Linked DNA regions of Homo sapiens: region 1 is linked to region 2. Evidence: fine-mapped expression QTL. Tissue or cell type: lung. Region 2 holds a variant in brackets; the other region holds the start of a gene. All regions are shown on one strand. Distances are between the middles of the regions.

What was found. PIP is the estimated chance that this variant, and not a neighbour inherited with it, causes the effect. A credible set is the group of variants that fine-mapping cannot tell apart.
Region 1: SLC10A5 starts here. The variant in region 2 is the best candidate, but not a certain one, in a credible set for the expression of SLC10A5 in lung (TOPMed, PIP 0.90).

What each region holds. Positions count from the first base shown.
Region 1 is chr8:81,690,991-81,698,994 of GRCh38, forward strand. SLC10A5 (solute carrier family 10 member 5) reads right to left here and starts at 4,068. Exons shown (of 1, transcript NM_001010893.3): 1 at 2,641-4,068. The coding sequence starts at 3,982. The coding sequence ends at 2,666.
Region 2 is chr8:81,603,664-81,611,913 of GRCh38, forward strand. It overlaps the pseudogene IMPA1P1. Among named protein-coding and RNA genes, the nearest start is that of FABP12, 74 kb to the left of the region's middle. The variant T/C (reference allele first, on the strand shown) is at 3,835.

The sequences.
Region 1 (8,004 bases), 87 kb after region 2:
TTGTGGCAGTCACCTGTAATCCCAGCTACTCAGGAGGCTGAGGCAGGAGAATTGCTTGAACCTGGAAGGCAGAAGTTGCAGTGAGTGGAGATCATGCCACTGTACTCCAGCCTGGGTAACAGAGTGAGCCTCCGTCCCCCCGCCCAAAAAAAAAAAAGAAAAAAAAAAAAAACAAGTCAGCCAGGCACGGTGGCTCAGGCCTGTAATCCCAGCACTTTGGGAGGCCGAGGTGGGCGGATCACCTGAGGTTGGGCGTTTGAGACCAGCCTGACCAACATGGAGAAACCCCATCTCTACTAAAAATACAAAATTAGCCGGGTATGGTGGCGCATGCCTGTTGTCCCAGCTACTCAGGAGACTGAGGCAGGAATCGCTTGAACCTGGGAGGTGGAGGTTGTGGTGAGCCAAGATCGCACCATTGCACTCCAGCCTGGGCAACAAGAGCAAAACTCTGTCTCAGAAAAACAAAACAAAACAAACAAACAAACAAAAAACCCAAAACATTATGTAAGTTAAATTTGTACAAATGTAATTCTATTTTAAACCTATAGTGGATATTTCAGTTTAAAGGAGTAAAATATTCTACATACACAATTATCACTTTATAAACCAAATAAACATCTATCATGTCTATTTGGTTTATATCAGATTTTATACAAATTTTGGTAGTCATATACTGGATTTGGTGGCATTTAAAGAAAAAAGAACCTTGGTTATCTTATCAACTGGCAAAGTAAACAAAAATTCTCTAATTCTATGATCAAGATGGTGAATAGTACTGATAGAAAATGTTGAAAGTTTTAGGCTCCATACATAGTTATACGATTGCTATTTCAAACTAGCAGCAGATCTACCAGGGTTGAAAGTTAAAACTGATAAAACAATAGCACTTACTATGTCCCAGGCACTCTTCCAAGCACATTACATGTATACTCTCACTTAATTCCTAGGACAATCTATGGAGTTGACACCATTAGCTTCATTTGTTAAATGAGAAAACTGGACTATAAGAAGATCAAAGAATTTGCCATAAGGCTAGGAAATAGGGAAAGCAGGATTATTTAGAGTGATATTTCCTATTCTCGATCCCACACTTTCTTGCACAAGATCGTAGACTTGCCCTAGATAATAAAAATTTTCACTGAAGATTAAAAGGAGGTTTTTGAAAAGCACACTATTTATTTGGACACTAGTCTGTGCTTCAACACATTATTTGAATAAGCACACAGAAGATACTGTGTTAGATGTGATAGGGAATATCAAAATGAATAAACATAGTTATTATGCTCAAAGACTTAGAGCAAAATAGGAAAATTAAAACAGGACACAAATAGTCATAAAACAAGCCAGGTTAGCTGGAATGAACAATACTCATAACATACTAAGTCATTCTGTTTGGGTAAAAGACTATGTGTAACGAGGTGAGAGAGGAGATATAATGAAACTGGGAAACTGGCTGGGCGTGGTGGCTCAAGCCTGTAATCCTAGCACTCTGGGAGGCTGAGGCACATGAATCACAAGGTCAGGAGTTCAAGACCAACCTGGCCAAGATGGTGAAACCCCGTTTCTACTAAAAACACAAAAATTAGCTGGGAGTGGTGGCAGGCGCCTGTAATCCCAGCTACTGGTGAGGCTGAGGCAGGAGAATCACTTGAACCTGGGAGGCGGAGGTTGCAGTGAGCCGAGATCACACCACTGCACTCCAGACTGTGTGACAAAGTGAGACTCCTTCTCAAAAAAAAAAAAAAAATAATAATAATAAATAAAACTGGGAAGCTAGGTTAAGGTCAGACAGTAGAGTATAATAAATGCCTCATTAAGAAATACAAATTCATTTAAAAAGCAAAAAGTCTTCATTGCTGGGAAATTATATGGTCAATGTTAGATTTTAGGAAAATTAATCTGACAGTGAGTAGAGGGTGGAGAGACAGGCCAGAAGCCAATTTAGAAAGGTTTAGGGAAGAAGCAATATAGTGCAGAAAAAAGTGATAGCACTGAGAATTGAGAAGAGCACTGGCAATTGAATTACAGGCTGTTTCTGTAGGAAATACATTCACTATAAAGAAAGAAAGAAAGAAGACAGAAGAGAGATGAGGTTGAAGAGCTGACCCTGTGTTGTGGGGTAAACAGTAATGCCTTTGGTGGGTTAACATGGAAGACAGGAGAAAGCTTAGCTCTGAGGGCAGAGATGCCACATTTACTTTAAAACATACTTATTTTGATGTGCTAATGAAATTTACAAATTCATTCACCGAGTGAGAATTTGTCAAATGTCTGCTATCTGGGTGTTCCTTCTTTTAATACTTAGGATATATCATAATCACTAAATAAGTTTTCTATTGCTCTGTCTCATTTAGGAGACCACTGAAAGTATCATATTGACATCATAGCCTATAAAACATTCTCAAACCAACACAGTTGCAAAGTTGTCTCCTTCCTCTGAACTTCTGTATTATCATCTCCACCACTCATTGAGTACTTAGCATATACGAATGTGTGTGTGTGTGTGTGTGTGTGTGTGTATATATATATATGTATTCTCTACCCCCCAATGTCAGATTTTTAATTACATTATAAGTGGCTTAAGAGCAGGTATCATTATAGTTATTCTTTTACTCTCCCACAGTGCCCTACCCAGAGTAGGAATTCAGTAATGCTTTAATTGTTAGATTAGGAAATTTCTTTTCCTTTTATCTTGTAAGAAAAAGATACATCTTTTCTTAGCCTTGTAAACTAGAATGATCAGTAACATTTCACATCCAGAACACATGGCTACTGTAAAAGGAGCCACAGAAGCTAAATTGGCCTTGGACTGTGGAAAAGACAGCTGAATAACGGCAAGAGCTAAGAAACTATTTAACATCCCACTTTCAATAGCAACAGTTTTACAAACAGGAAGAGGCAGCGTACAAACTTTAGCAAAGGAGTACCCAAACAGCAAACCCAAAGCAGGAACTAAGAGACCCAACAGAATCACCTCTAGATTATCTGTTTTTAAGAACACTAATCCCACTGTGAAAGTCAAATAAATTCCTACGAACATTAAAATAAAACTCAGAGGTCTAATTATTCTCTCTAAGAAGCTTGCTTTTTCAGGTATTCTATGCTTGATGACTATTCCAATTGATACTGGCACAAGTATGAAAAGGAGTGTTGACACAATTTTAGAAACAGGAATATGGAATGTACCTGACAACCCTAATATCCTACTGTATATATAAGAATTGACAGGCATCATGATCAGAGCCAATAATGTTGATGTGCAAGTCATCAAAATGGCCAATGTGAAATCTCCATCTAGAAGCAGAGCAAAGAGATAGCCCCCACCCCCTCCTGGGCACGTGCAGGTCATTACAACTCCAAAAGCTTGCGCCTCAGGCAATGCCACAATCTGAGACAAAAGAAACCCGCAAAATGGCATCAGAAAAAACTGTGTAACTGCCCCAAGAATTACTGGCAAAGGTCTCTTCCATACTGTTTGAAACAGCTGTAATTCAATCTTACAACCAAATGCACACTTATTCAATAGTATTAGTGGTAAAATAAGCATTAGGATATTTCTATCAATATGCATTGGTGCCTGGAGTAGACTGTCTTTTTGTTTGAGCACTTTGACTTTCACATTCTTGATTTCTTCAATGAGTCTTTCTTGCCTACCTTCAGAATCCCAGAGTTGAATAGTCACATTTGTTTCTCCTTCTTCATCAGTCACCAGATTTATGGTAAAGTTTGTAGCATCTGATGAGATCTTCTTGGCCACATTCACCATTTGTAGTATTTTAGGATCTTCTATTTTCACAAAGAGGTGGCTGGAATTAGGCCGTTTATTTTCGTAGCTTGAACTTACAAGGATGGTTTCTTCAGTCTTTGTGAAAAATAGTATTTCAGTCTTCTCTATATTCAGAAAACTGAGCGATGACATCCTTGCTTCTTCTATAGTCACAAGCAACAAAAGTAGAACAATAAAAAGTTTTCTAATCATTTTGAAAGCTGAAATAAATCATATATGCAAAATCGTTTTTAAAAAATGAAAGAACATTCTTCATGCAGGTGTTCCAGTGACAGTCTGAGGGTGAGTTAGATAACAGTTGTTTTTGTAGGATCAAAGTCCAGTAGGAGGGACTGCTGTACTTTTAAACAAATATATAGCCATCTAAGCAGCAACACAACCGGTTTAACTTGTGATTAAGACAATTAAAAAGTCATGGCATTTAACAGATTCGATTTATCACAACAGAAATCTAATCTCTTCCTCTTGATTTCCTCATTTCTGCTTATGCGAAAAAAAAAAGCCTCCTATTTACTTGAATTTAAAGCTTAGTGTCATCATTCGTTAGTTATTTCTTGCTAAAAAAAAAAAAATTAAAAGCAGTCAGGATCAAGAAATCTGTAACAGACACTGAGGAAACCTAGAGTTCAGTGTTACCATTTTGTTCAATCAAGTCGAAGTCAAATCAATATTCACTGAATGTCTCTTTGCCTAGGGCATGGAATTGGGAGCTGGCCATCCCATAATGATTAAGCCAGATGCAGTCGCTGCTCTCCTGGAGCTTAGTGGGGTGACCCAATATCACAAGTTAGAAAACTGCAGAGCCCAGACACTGGCCTTGGCAGCATCCCTTGGCTGCTAATAGTTTTCCTGCATCTCTGAAGGATGATTTAATCTGTCAAGCAAAAACTGACACTGTTTTTTGTATACCTAAGTAGGAAAAAAAATTCCTGAATGGTTACCAGATAACTTGGGGACATAGGGAAAGTAGGTAGCTGGTGCCACGGCCAAAGGTACAGGCTGGTTAAGGGACCACAGCTACTGGACACTTGGACCCTGACACGATGGGGCAATGGAAAGACACTGGCATTGATTCTAATCTTTTATTCCTTGTTTGTAACACTACTCTCTGTTCACAGTTAGGGGCAAGGGCATTCAATTGACCCAATTTGGTCATATCCCTTGGTTGCCAGGAATGAGAAAAAGCATCAGGCTTTTTGGATTTCAACCCATAGACTCACACACTTGTATATTTCCCACACAAGGGGTGGGTGTCCTGATGCTAAGCAGCAAACCAACCAGCCGACCAACCAACCAACCAAACGTTTACTATTAAGCCTACAGATGTAGTAGTCTCTGAACACATGACCATTTCAGCAGCTCTTTCATGTAATCATGATGCAATGTGTTCAAGGTAATGCCAATTTGTATTAAGTATTTTAGATCATTTGTTCCTCAAAAATGTGAAACCTTTTTGTCATTTTAACGAGTTTTATAAAAGTATACCATTTATGTCGGTTAATCTTTCAAATGCAGTAGACCTTAGGTCTCATAAATTTTATTAATATGTACCACATTAAGAAAAACAAGATCCGCTGTACCAATGGTGAGGATAGGGAATGGGACTGTTCATTGATATTTCAGTTAAAATTTCCCTATTTTAACTGACAAAAACAAAACAAAAAACAAAAATGTCATAAAACCTAAGTTATCTTTAGTTATGTGACCAAATATCTTGACTCATAACTTTTGTTGCCTAGGTCGAAGATGTGAGTATATCAGTTTTTCTTTCCCCTTAGGACTCTTTCTGCAACCCTTTTAGTTCTTCGGTTTCTCCAGGCCCTTTCATTTGAAAACCGTGAAGAACAAAGCCTGACAAATCTAGGAAAACTTTGATAATCTATCATTCATCTATATAAGTGTTCTTCTAAATTTTCATGGAAAATATGTATTATAAAAAAGTGTGTATGAATTTCAATTTTTTTTTTGCACCAGAATAAACTTTTTGTAACATGTCTGAACAGGATCTAGTGAGGGACACTAACTATGATAAGACATTTAGAAAAGAGCTCTTTTATCAGAGAAACATAAATTCTGCTAAAATTGAAGGAAGAACACACATCAAATTTATGGTGAGGTTTGGGTGGAAGAATGGTGAAATCATTGATGCTTCACATAAAGGTTATGGAGACAATACCCCAAGGAGATCTGCAGTTTACAAATGGATAACTCATTTTAAGAGATGAGACAATGTTGAAGATGAAGCCCGTAGCAGCAGACCATTCACAGCAATTTGTGAAGAAAAAAAGCACAGACAATATCTAATATGGTTTGGCTGTGTGTCCCCACCCAAATCTCATGCAGAAGTGTAATGACAGGAAGTGTTGGAGGAGGGACATGGAGGGAGATGATTGGATCATGTGCATGGCTTCTGATGGTTTAGCACCATCGCCCTAGTGCTGTCCCATGATAGAGTTCTCACAAGATCTGGTTGTTTGAAAGTGTGTAGCACCTCCCTCTTCACTTGCTGTCTCCTGCTGGCCATGTGAAGATGTGCTTTCTTCCCCTTCTCCCATGATTTTAAGTTTCCTGAGCCTCCCAGCCATGCTTCCTGTAGAGCCTGTGGAACTGAGTCAAGCTTCTTTTCTTTATACAGTACGCACTCTCAGGTAATTCTTTTTTGGGAGGACAGAGTTTCACTCTTGTCACCCAGACTGGAATGCAGTGGTGCTCTCTCGGTTCACTGCAAGCTCCGCCTCCCAGGTTCAAGTGATTCTCCTGCCTCAGCCTTGTGAGTAGCAGGGATTACAGGTGTTTGTCATCATGCCCAGCAAATTTTTGTATTTTTAGTAGATATGGGGTTTCACCATGTTGGCCAGGTTTGTCTCGAACTCCTGATCTCAGGTGATCCACCTGTCTTGGCCTCCCAAAGTGCTGGGATTACAGGTGTGAGCCACCACGCCCGACCTCATGTAGTTCTTTATAGCAGTGTGAGAATGGACTAATACAATATCCAACATCATAGATGTCTCAGTTGGTTCAGCTTACACAATGCTGACAGAAAAATTAAACTTGAGCAAACTTTCCACTTGATGGGTACCGAAACTATTGCACCCAGATCAGCTACAGACAAGAGTACTTTTGTTCTCCTGGTGGGTTTTCTACTTAAAATTTCAGTTGTCTTTCAATAAAAATTTTAAACAAGTGGGATCAAGATCCTGAAGGATTTCTTCCAAGAATTGTAACAGGAGATGAAACATGGCTTTACCAGAATAATCCCGAAAACAAAGCACAAACAGAGCAATAGCTACCAAGAGGTGGAAGTGGTCCAGTCAAAATAAAAGTGGACTAGTCAAAAGCAAGGTCATGGCAACTATTTTTTGGGATGCTCAAAGCATTTTTCTTGTTGACTTTCTGGAGAGCCAAAGAACAATAACGTCTGCTTATTATAAAGGTGTTATGAGGCTGGGTACAGTGGCTTATGCCTGTAGTCTCAGCACTTTTGGTGGCCAAGGCAGGAGGATCCATTGAGGCCAGGAGTTCAAGACCAGTCTGGGCAACATAGCAAGACCTATCTCTACAAAAAGAAAAAAAAAATATGAGAATGTTTAGAGACAGCCAAAGTTTTAGCAGAAAAATGCCCAGGTAAGCTTCACCAGAGATTGCTTCTCCACTAAGACAATGCTCCTGCTCATTCCTCTCATAAAACAAGGAAAATTTTGAATTTTGATGGTAAATCATTAGGCATCTACCTTAGGAGGTCTAATTTTGCTTCTTCTGACTTCCTGTTTCCTAATCTTTAAAAAAAAAAAAAAACTTTAAAGGGCACCCATTTTTCTTTAGTTAAGAAACAGACTGCATTAACATGATTAAATATCCAGGACCATCAGTTATTTTGCAATGGACTAAGTGGCTGGCGTCATTGCTTACGAAAGTGTCTTAAACTTGATGGAGCTTATGTTGAAAAATAAAGTTTATGTTTTATATTTTTATCTGTTTTCTTTTTTGAGACAGGGTCTCGCTTTATTGCCCAGGCTGGAGTATAGTGGCAAGATCATGGCTCACTGCAGCCTCGACCTCCTGGGCTCCAGTGATCCTGCTGCCTCGGCCTCCCAAAGTATCAGGATTACAGGTGTGAGCCACCACACCTGTCCTTTTTTTTTTTTTTTTTGAGACGAAGTCTTGCTCTGTCACCCAGGCTGGGGTGCAATGGTATAATCTTGGTTCACTGCAAC
Region 2 (8,250 bases):
GGGGGAGAATTCAGATGGGAAATATGGGCTGTAGGTCAAGACTGGGGAGTCAGTAGAAAGGATGTGATGGTTGAAATCATGGGGCTTGCATGGGTCTCCTCAGAGTGACTTGACAGTCAGAAGGTAAACCACCAAGGAGAGCACTCTACAGAACTGTATTATCACCAGAGAAGAAAAGTCAGCAAAAGAAACAAAGAAAGGAACAAAGAACATTTCAACATGGGATTTTTTTTTAAAACAAAACAAGCAAGGGGGAAGGACTGAAGAGAGGTTAAGTTCAAAGCAGAAACAATTTGGCTTCTGTAAATTATTAGGATATCGTTGGTGATATCAAAATGTGCAGAACCATTGGAAGTTAGAGCTTCAGCCAGATTGCAATCATCCACATTATTGCGTGTAACTGGAGTCTATTTTTTCATTGCTACAGAACATTCTTCATGTGATTAGACCACATTTTTTAAAAAAAATCCATTCTGTTGGCCAAGGATGATTAAGATATTTATTGGTGGCTGGGCGTGGTGGCTCATGCATGTAATCCCAGCACCTTGGGAGGCCGAGGCAGGTGGATCACGAGGTCAGGAGTTTGAGATCAGCCTGGCCAACATAGTGAAACCCCACCTCTACTAAAAATACAAAAATTAGCTGGGCATGGTGGCGCACACCTGTAGTCCCAGTTACTCAGGAGGCTGAGGCAGGAGAATCACTTGAACCCAGGAGGCAGAGGTTGTGGTGAGCTGAAATTGCGCCACTGCACTCCAGCCTGGGCAACAGAGTGAGACCCTGTCTCAAAAAAAAAAAAAAAAGAAAAAAGATATTTATTGGTATTTACTGGCCAGGTTGGTGTGAGACAGAGGAAATTGCAAGTCATACTTGTCTGAAAAATGTCATCTATTCTCTTACTTAAAGGCTGAATGGAATCCAGTTACAATGAAATTATATAAGGATTTGGGAGGAAACCAAATAGTTGAATATTAATAATAATGCATAATTTGCCAACATAAATCAGCATCAACATCTTTGAAATGTGACTATTGAAATGAGTAAAATGTTACACTGTATCTAAATATATCAGATATCTGATGAGAGTGCTTTTTGGGAACAGTTTCTTCTCTCTTAGGGAGTTTAAAGCAAATTAAAATACATACCTTAACTAAGTGCTTTGGAAAATATATTTATCGCAGAAATGCCTACAATAAGCAACTCTATCTGGCAGTATGTTAATGTGAAATATACAAAATATAACTAGACTGTTTTTACTTCAAAATTCACATCATCATGAAAAATACAGCAAAAGTACAGAATGGTGAGCTCATTATGTATCTACTCTATATAATAACTAGGAATTGATGACTTCAAAATATTCATTCTTACAATGTTTAATTTTGATTGCTAACTGACAAGCACGGTGCTAGGTGTTATATGAGCACTGAATAAAACAAAAAAGTTTCTCTGCAAAGAAAAAAACCTTGGTCTAGGAAGTACTCAATATATCCTTACAAATTTAAATATGGCTTTTGAAACCAAACAATTTTTTTTTCCAAATAGGTAACTTTCTAAGCGAGTGTCTAGGCATACATATATATAGCAAGTCAAAATTTCAGACCATTGATACTCAGAAATGCAAAATTGCTAACTATTTCAGTTGATGTTATACTTATTTCATCAACTATACTTTTTGTGTATTTTTCCTAAAGCTCTTACATGCAATTTTTTTAAACAATGAAGTAAACATCATGTCTATTCTTGCAAACCTAGCCATAGTAAAATATGAAACAAGTTCAAAATTCTTAATCTGGACAAAGACAATTTAAACTAAGCATATAATACATCTGAAACACGTATCCACAGTGAGTCAGCAAATCTGGGGAAAAGCAACTGTGATTGACTATGAGGCTGCTGTAATTAATCTTCATCATCTCATTGAAAAGGTGCTACCTGAATTTCTTTGGCTATCCTTTCTGCTAATGCTGTACAATTTGCAGCAATTATTCTCCGTGACATTAAATGGAATGGTCCACCTAAAACAAATCAAGTATGGTAAATAGTTATATCTGGTACAAAAATAATTTATATCAAACAAGTACAGCAATGTGCACTATGGTCAATCACGACATTTTAATACTTTCAGTTTTCTTTTAAAAATCTACTGTCACATAACTACAATGTTTAAGCTTTGGCAATCCATAGCTGAGTTTCTAAGTATATGTTTTTTAAAATACCAGTTTTTTGGTATTTACTGGCAAGGTTGGTGGGGGAGAGAGGGAGTCTCAAGTCATGCTAGTCTGAAAATGTCATCTATTCTCTATTTCTTTGTTTGTGTGTGTGTGTGTGTATATACACTGTTATTACCTCTTTACTGTTTAAGAATCTATGGACAGAAAATGTGACTCCAATTAATTTTCATACCACTATCCTTCCCATTTCCTTATTTCTTTGTTGCCTTTCTCTCAGATCACTGGTGAATTCTTTGAACCCAGGTTCACTCTTCACTTCAAAAATTTCACCATCAGCTCAAAGCAAATATTTAACTTCTCTAGTCCCAACACAGAAGGTGATGGTGGAGGACTGAAGTCAATCATCAACTATCACAATGGTCAGCATTCAAAGAACTCTAAATACAAGCCTCAGAGTCAGTGACTCTCTAGGCTTTCTCAACAGCCTTTCAGGAGTTCCTATTACTCACATTTGAAAAGGCTTAGCCATTTATCACTATCAGTCCCATATTGCCATTAGTTCTCATCCTTGCCTCTATCTCCTAATGTTTATTTTGATTTTGCACAAAATTATATAGCCTGTTTGTCTTAAAATCCAAGCTATCATATGTATCAAACTTTTTTTAAACTCCATATACAGAGGAAAGTCCAAGAGATGTAAAGGGAAAAATGATTCACTATCTCATAATTTTACCAGTAACATCCATTAGCACGCCACCAGCTTCAGTAACAATAATGGCAGCTACTGCAATATCCCAGCAGTGAATTCCCATTTCATAAAATGCCTCTGCTCCTCCACTTGCCGCAATGCACATATTAGTAGCTGCTGTTCCAACACTCTGGATCCTCAAAAATAGTATTCAAAAATGGCAGATTGAAAAAATAACCTTTCAAGTAAGGTATTCCTCCTAACTTCAGTTTGAATGTTGATTGAGATAAGTTGAACCAATCTAGAGAATAAATGTAAAAAAAGATGGTATTTAATCTTAAAATAAAAATATATAAAATCCAGTTATCGTGATATACTATATAAATCCCAAAACTAATCCTCACAAAGCAATAATTTAATAAGATAAACATGAAAGCAATAATTTTGCAGAAAAAAAGCCCTAAAAATAATGCTATAATTCTACTATAACAGCATGCAAATATATTCATATTTTTTTAAACCCAAGGCAACCACAGCTTATTTTACACAGATACACACACACATGCACACATACACAATGCACAATAATCTCTAGGGAGCATAAAGTATCATGATATTGATCATTCCCAACTGGATGTGCATCATATCTAGACCTAAAGGGATTGCAACCCACCTGGGTTCTGCACAAACCTAGGCCTCTCTTGAAAGATTACTACAGGTTTTTCCTCTCATAGCACCTCTTCCTTGAAAATACAGCAAGGTAAGATGAATGTGTAAGATATAAGTAAGAATAAGTAAGATACTACTTGATAGCAATTATAGTAATAACTTATTCAGTAAAGAATCATCAGCCGGGCGTGGTGGCTCACACCTGTAATCCCAGCACTTTGGGAGGCCAAGGTGGGCAGATCACAAGGTCAGGAGACCGAGACCATCCTGGCTAACACGGTGAAACCCCATCTCTACTAAAAA[T/C]ATATATTAAAAAGAATTAGCCAGGCGTTGTTGCGGGCACCTGTAGTCCCAGCTACTCAGGAGGCTGAGGCAGAAGAATGGCGTGAACCTGGGAGGCAGAGCTTGCAGTGAGCCAAGATCGAGCCACTACACTCCAGCCTGGGCAACAGAGCAAGACTCCATCTCAAAAAAAAAAATCATCAATAAATGTTAAAATTAATGGGTAAAAGTTTGATATTTTTGGTATCAAAGTATCTCTCCACAAGATATATAATAAGTACAGTGAGGAAAAAATAGCATTTTTACAATGATCTATCTACCATTACCAAGTAATCAAAGTTAATATCACCCATAATAGGACAAAAAGATACCATGTGCCTCCTGATATGATGCACTGAGAAGTACAGAACATTACTTCTGTGACATTCCTGCCAAAAATTCATAATCCAAATGTAATCATAAATAAACTAGACAAATTCAAATCAAGAGATAGACCACGAAATAATTGGCCTATACTTTTGAAAAATGTCAAGGTCATAAAAGATAAAGAAAGACCAAGCAAGTTATAAATTAAAGGAAACTGAAGAGAAATGAGAACTAAATGCAATCAATGTATGAGTCTGGATTGGACATTGGGTTAAAATTTTTTTCAAAATTTGAATAAAGTCTTTATATTAGATTATGTATCAATGTTAATTTCCTGACTTTTATAATTGTGCTGTGGCTGTGTTAGACAATGTTCCTTTTTATTAAAGAAATACACACTGAAATGTGTTTTTAGAAGAAAAAGATCATTATGTCTGCAAGTTAATTGCAAATGGTTTCTATTCAAACTCCTTTTGTGACTGTTTAAAGCTCTGGAAATAAAGCAGTGGGTTCTATTTACCAAGATCTTTCCCAGTTTATTTTTTTAAAAAGTAATGATAAATTGATTACAAATGTGGTATTTATTTTGTATTGTATTGTAAAAAATATTGCACCTAAGTACATCCTTCATCTCAAAGGGACTTTTTAAAAAAAGGATTAGAATGATATAATGTCTTTGATTTGGAATTTTTTCCTGCCTATGTTTTTGCTGCACATCTAATTTAAGAAAGAACTAGGAGGTGCAATAAATTTCCAAGATGTTTGTTTCCCAAATGCATGAAATCAAATTAGCTTTTGTGGCATTTTTTCAGTTATAAAGAAAGATGTGTTTCTCCCCTTTTCATATGAGATATGTGATAGCTGATATCTCATATTATAGAAAGCAAAGACCAAGATCTTCTACAAGTAATCCCTTAGTATTCTATTCAGAGAATCCTAGGCTAGCAGAACAACAGTGATAGCAACTAGTGGTGCTTCCATCACTTCTAATGCACATCATGGGATCTCAGGCAAGGAGTCTTGTAGTCAGCTAGAGCATATATTTTGTGAGCAAATATTACCAAAGAGATTACTTATATTACCAGGTAATTAAGGCTATGGTATAGATTCTACAATGTGCCTTCTGAATCCTATCTTAATCTGATCCTCCTATACAGCTAATAGGGTATATCATAAAAAAGCCTATGTTTGGGGTCACAAAGAGTTGAGTTTGTTCCATGCTCAGCTGCTTAAAAACCCTAATCTGGGCCAGGCATGGTGGCTTATGCCTGTAATCCCAGCACTTTGGGAGGCCAAGGAGAGTGGATCACCTGAGGTCAGGTGTTTGAGATCAGCCTGGCCAACATGGTGAAACCCTGTCTCTACTAAAAATACAAAATTAGCCTAGTGTGGTGGCACATGCCTGTAATCCCAGCTACTTGGGAGGCTGAGGCAGGAGAATTGCTTGAACCCAGGAGGTGGAGGTTGCAGTGAGCCGAGATCACACCACTGCACTCCAGCCTGAGCAACAAGAGTGAAACTCCATCACAAAAAACAAAAAAACAAATCTGGACCAAGTTTCTTCTTTGAGTTTTAGCTTTCTTGTCATCAAATAGGGATACCAATTTGCCTTAGATCACTGTTACAATAACTACAAATAATATTTGTAAAGCACCAAAAGAGTGCCTGCCATATAAAAGATACATAATAAAAAGTAGCTATGTTTATGACAAAATTATTCTCAAAAGATGATGCCAGAAAATATATACCAGGTACATTTCATCTAATTAAATTTTGAAAAATTAAAGGAAATTGAGCCACAATAATTGTTGTCTTAAAAATATTTGTTCCTAGTCAGGAACCTATTAGACTGTTTCTGCTTGTTTAAAGCATTCATTCAGATTATGACTCCCTTTAGTTTCATTGTTTTGTATAAGTAACTCTGAAATCACATTGCTAAACTAAAGAAGCAGCTGAATGCAAAAGATCTTAAATCAATGTCAGAACTTCTCCTTGGTAATATTTCCCTGGTTACACTTCTGAAAAAATCCTGAAGTAAAAATTAGTTTTTACTTTATCCAACAGCAAAATTAAAGGTTAAAATTGTAAACCTCTTGCAGCTCTTTTATGACTAACATAACCATTTTATAGCCCATGGTTACAGTCCTTGCTTCAAGACAGCACACTGTAGCAATAAGTTTATTGCCCTTCCCTCAAGGACATCATTCTGGGAGGTTCTGTAGCTATTTGACAGAGGCTCTCTCTCTTTTGCTTTACTCATTACTATATAGAACAAAGATGTATAGTATAAAATTAGTTTGTACATGGCCAAACTATATTTTTAAGGTCCCGACTCCTAAGAGAAGTCCAATATTGGAGAAAGATAAATGATCTGGGAGCCAGGATTCTAGTCATATTTCCACCCAGCTGTTCGATCTAAGGCAACCACATCACCTCTCTGAGCCTCAGTCGACTCACCTACAAAAAAAGGCTGGATTATTAGATGATCTTTGATCAGGTTTAAGACTCTTATAACTCAGTGATGATATTTTCAAAAGGAAAAAAGGTAGAAACAGTAGGCAGTAAAATATCTGTTATTCAAAACTTAACAGATTTTGTTGAATAACAAAATTTATGATTTTTAATGCAAACAACTACAATAAAGGTCAGAAATTCTATTTAATATAGCATAACTATATTAAAGACTTCAAAACTCTAGCTTTTCTTGAAAATGTAAACATAAAAGTAAGGATAGATATTTGCTTTTAATTTCTTCATTTATGAAACTGATTACAGAAGGACTCTGAGGTTTAGAAAGGAATAGTGGCATGCTGATTTTGAAACTCCCCATTACCCACCTGAAAAATAAAATTAAATAAAATCAAAAAGGAGGACAAATAAAACACACAAGACCTATTCCTTCAGCATTTCTAGGAATCGGAAAATACAAATCTCAAACTACCTGTAAGCAGAAGAAAGAGCAAACAAACTAATTCTAACACAGCATTCCTAGCCTGTGGATACACGGAGTGGAGGAGAAGAGGCAGAAAAGACTTTGTGAGGGAGAGCAGGGAGGAGCCAAGGACCCACAGGGAACACAGAAAAAACCACCCTCAGAAACGAGTATAAGTGAGACAATAAATGCAAAGACACTGAGCACAGATCAGCCCTTGGTAATTCACAGTCCAGCTACCTCGGGGAAACTGTGATTTTGGAGGAGAATCAGATAAGACAGAAGAGGTGGTACCTCTTGGAGACCAAGTATTCAAAGAAAAGTTGGGACTAAGATTGAAAAATTAAGGATCCTGCAGAAATCAATGATAAGCAAGACAAGCCAACCCTGCCTACCACAACCACTCAAAAGATATCATAAAGGAAACTACACAGAAGGGCAGAACTGACAAAATACAGAGCTCTGAACCAAGGAGCCCTGATAACAAAATGAATCAAAATAGAAAAAAGTAGAGCACATCCCCACAAGCCTGCAAAACATCAGACATTGCTAATAAAAATGGGTTTCTTTTTGTTTGAAGTCTCTCCAGAAAACCAACATTGTGAACAGTGAGAACACATGGACAAGGGAGGGGAATATCACACACTGGGGCCTGTCAGGGAGTGGGGGATAAGGGGAGGGAGAGCATTAGGACAAACACCTAATGCATGCGGGGCTTAAAACCTAGATGACAGGTGCAGGAAATCACCATGGCACATGTATACCTATGTTAACAAACCTGAACATTCAGCAAATGTATCCCGTAACTTAAATTTTTTTTAAATTGCTGCTGTAACACAACAAAAGAAAATAACAACATTCTGTCTTTTAAAATAAAAAACAATAATGAAGCAGAAGAAAACTGAAACATCAATACAATCTGAGTTAAATGGCCTCAAATACTTGTGGTTGTGAATATGAAAAAAAATTGTTAAATCTGAAATAGAGACTGAAAGCAGAAATGAAACAAAATTTTTTTAAAAAAAAACAGGATAAGTGAACTCAGGAAAGAAATGGGGACAAAATGAAGAATAAATTACAAGGTGCCCAAAAGGGCACAGATGCAAAAGAAAACTTAAAGAAAATCAGGAAAAGCAATA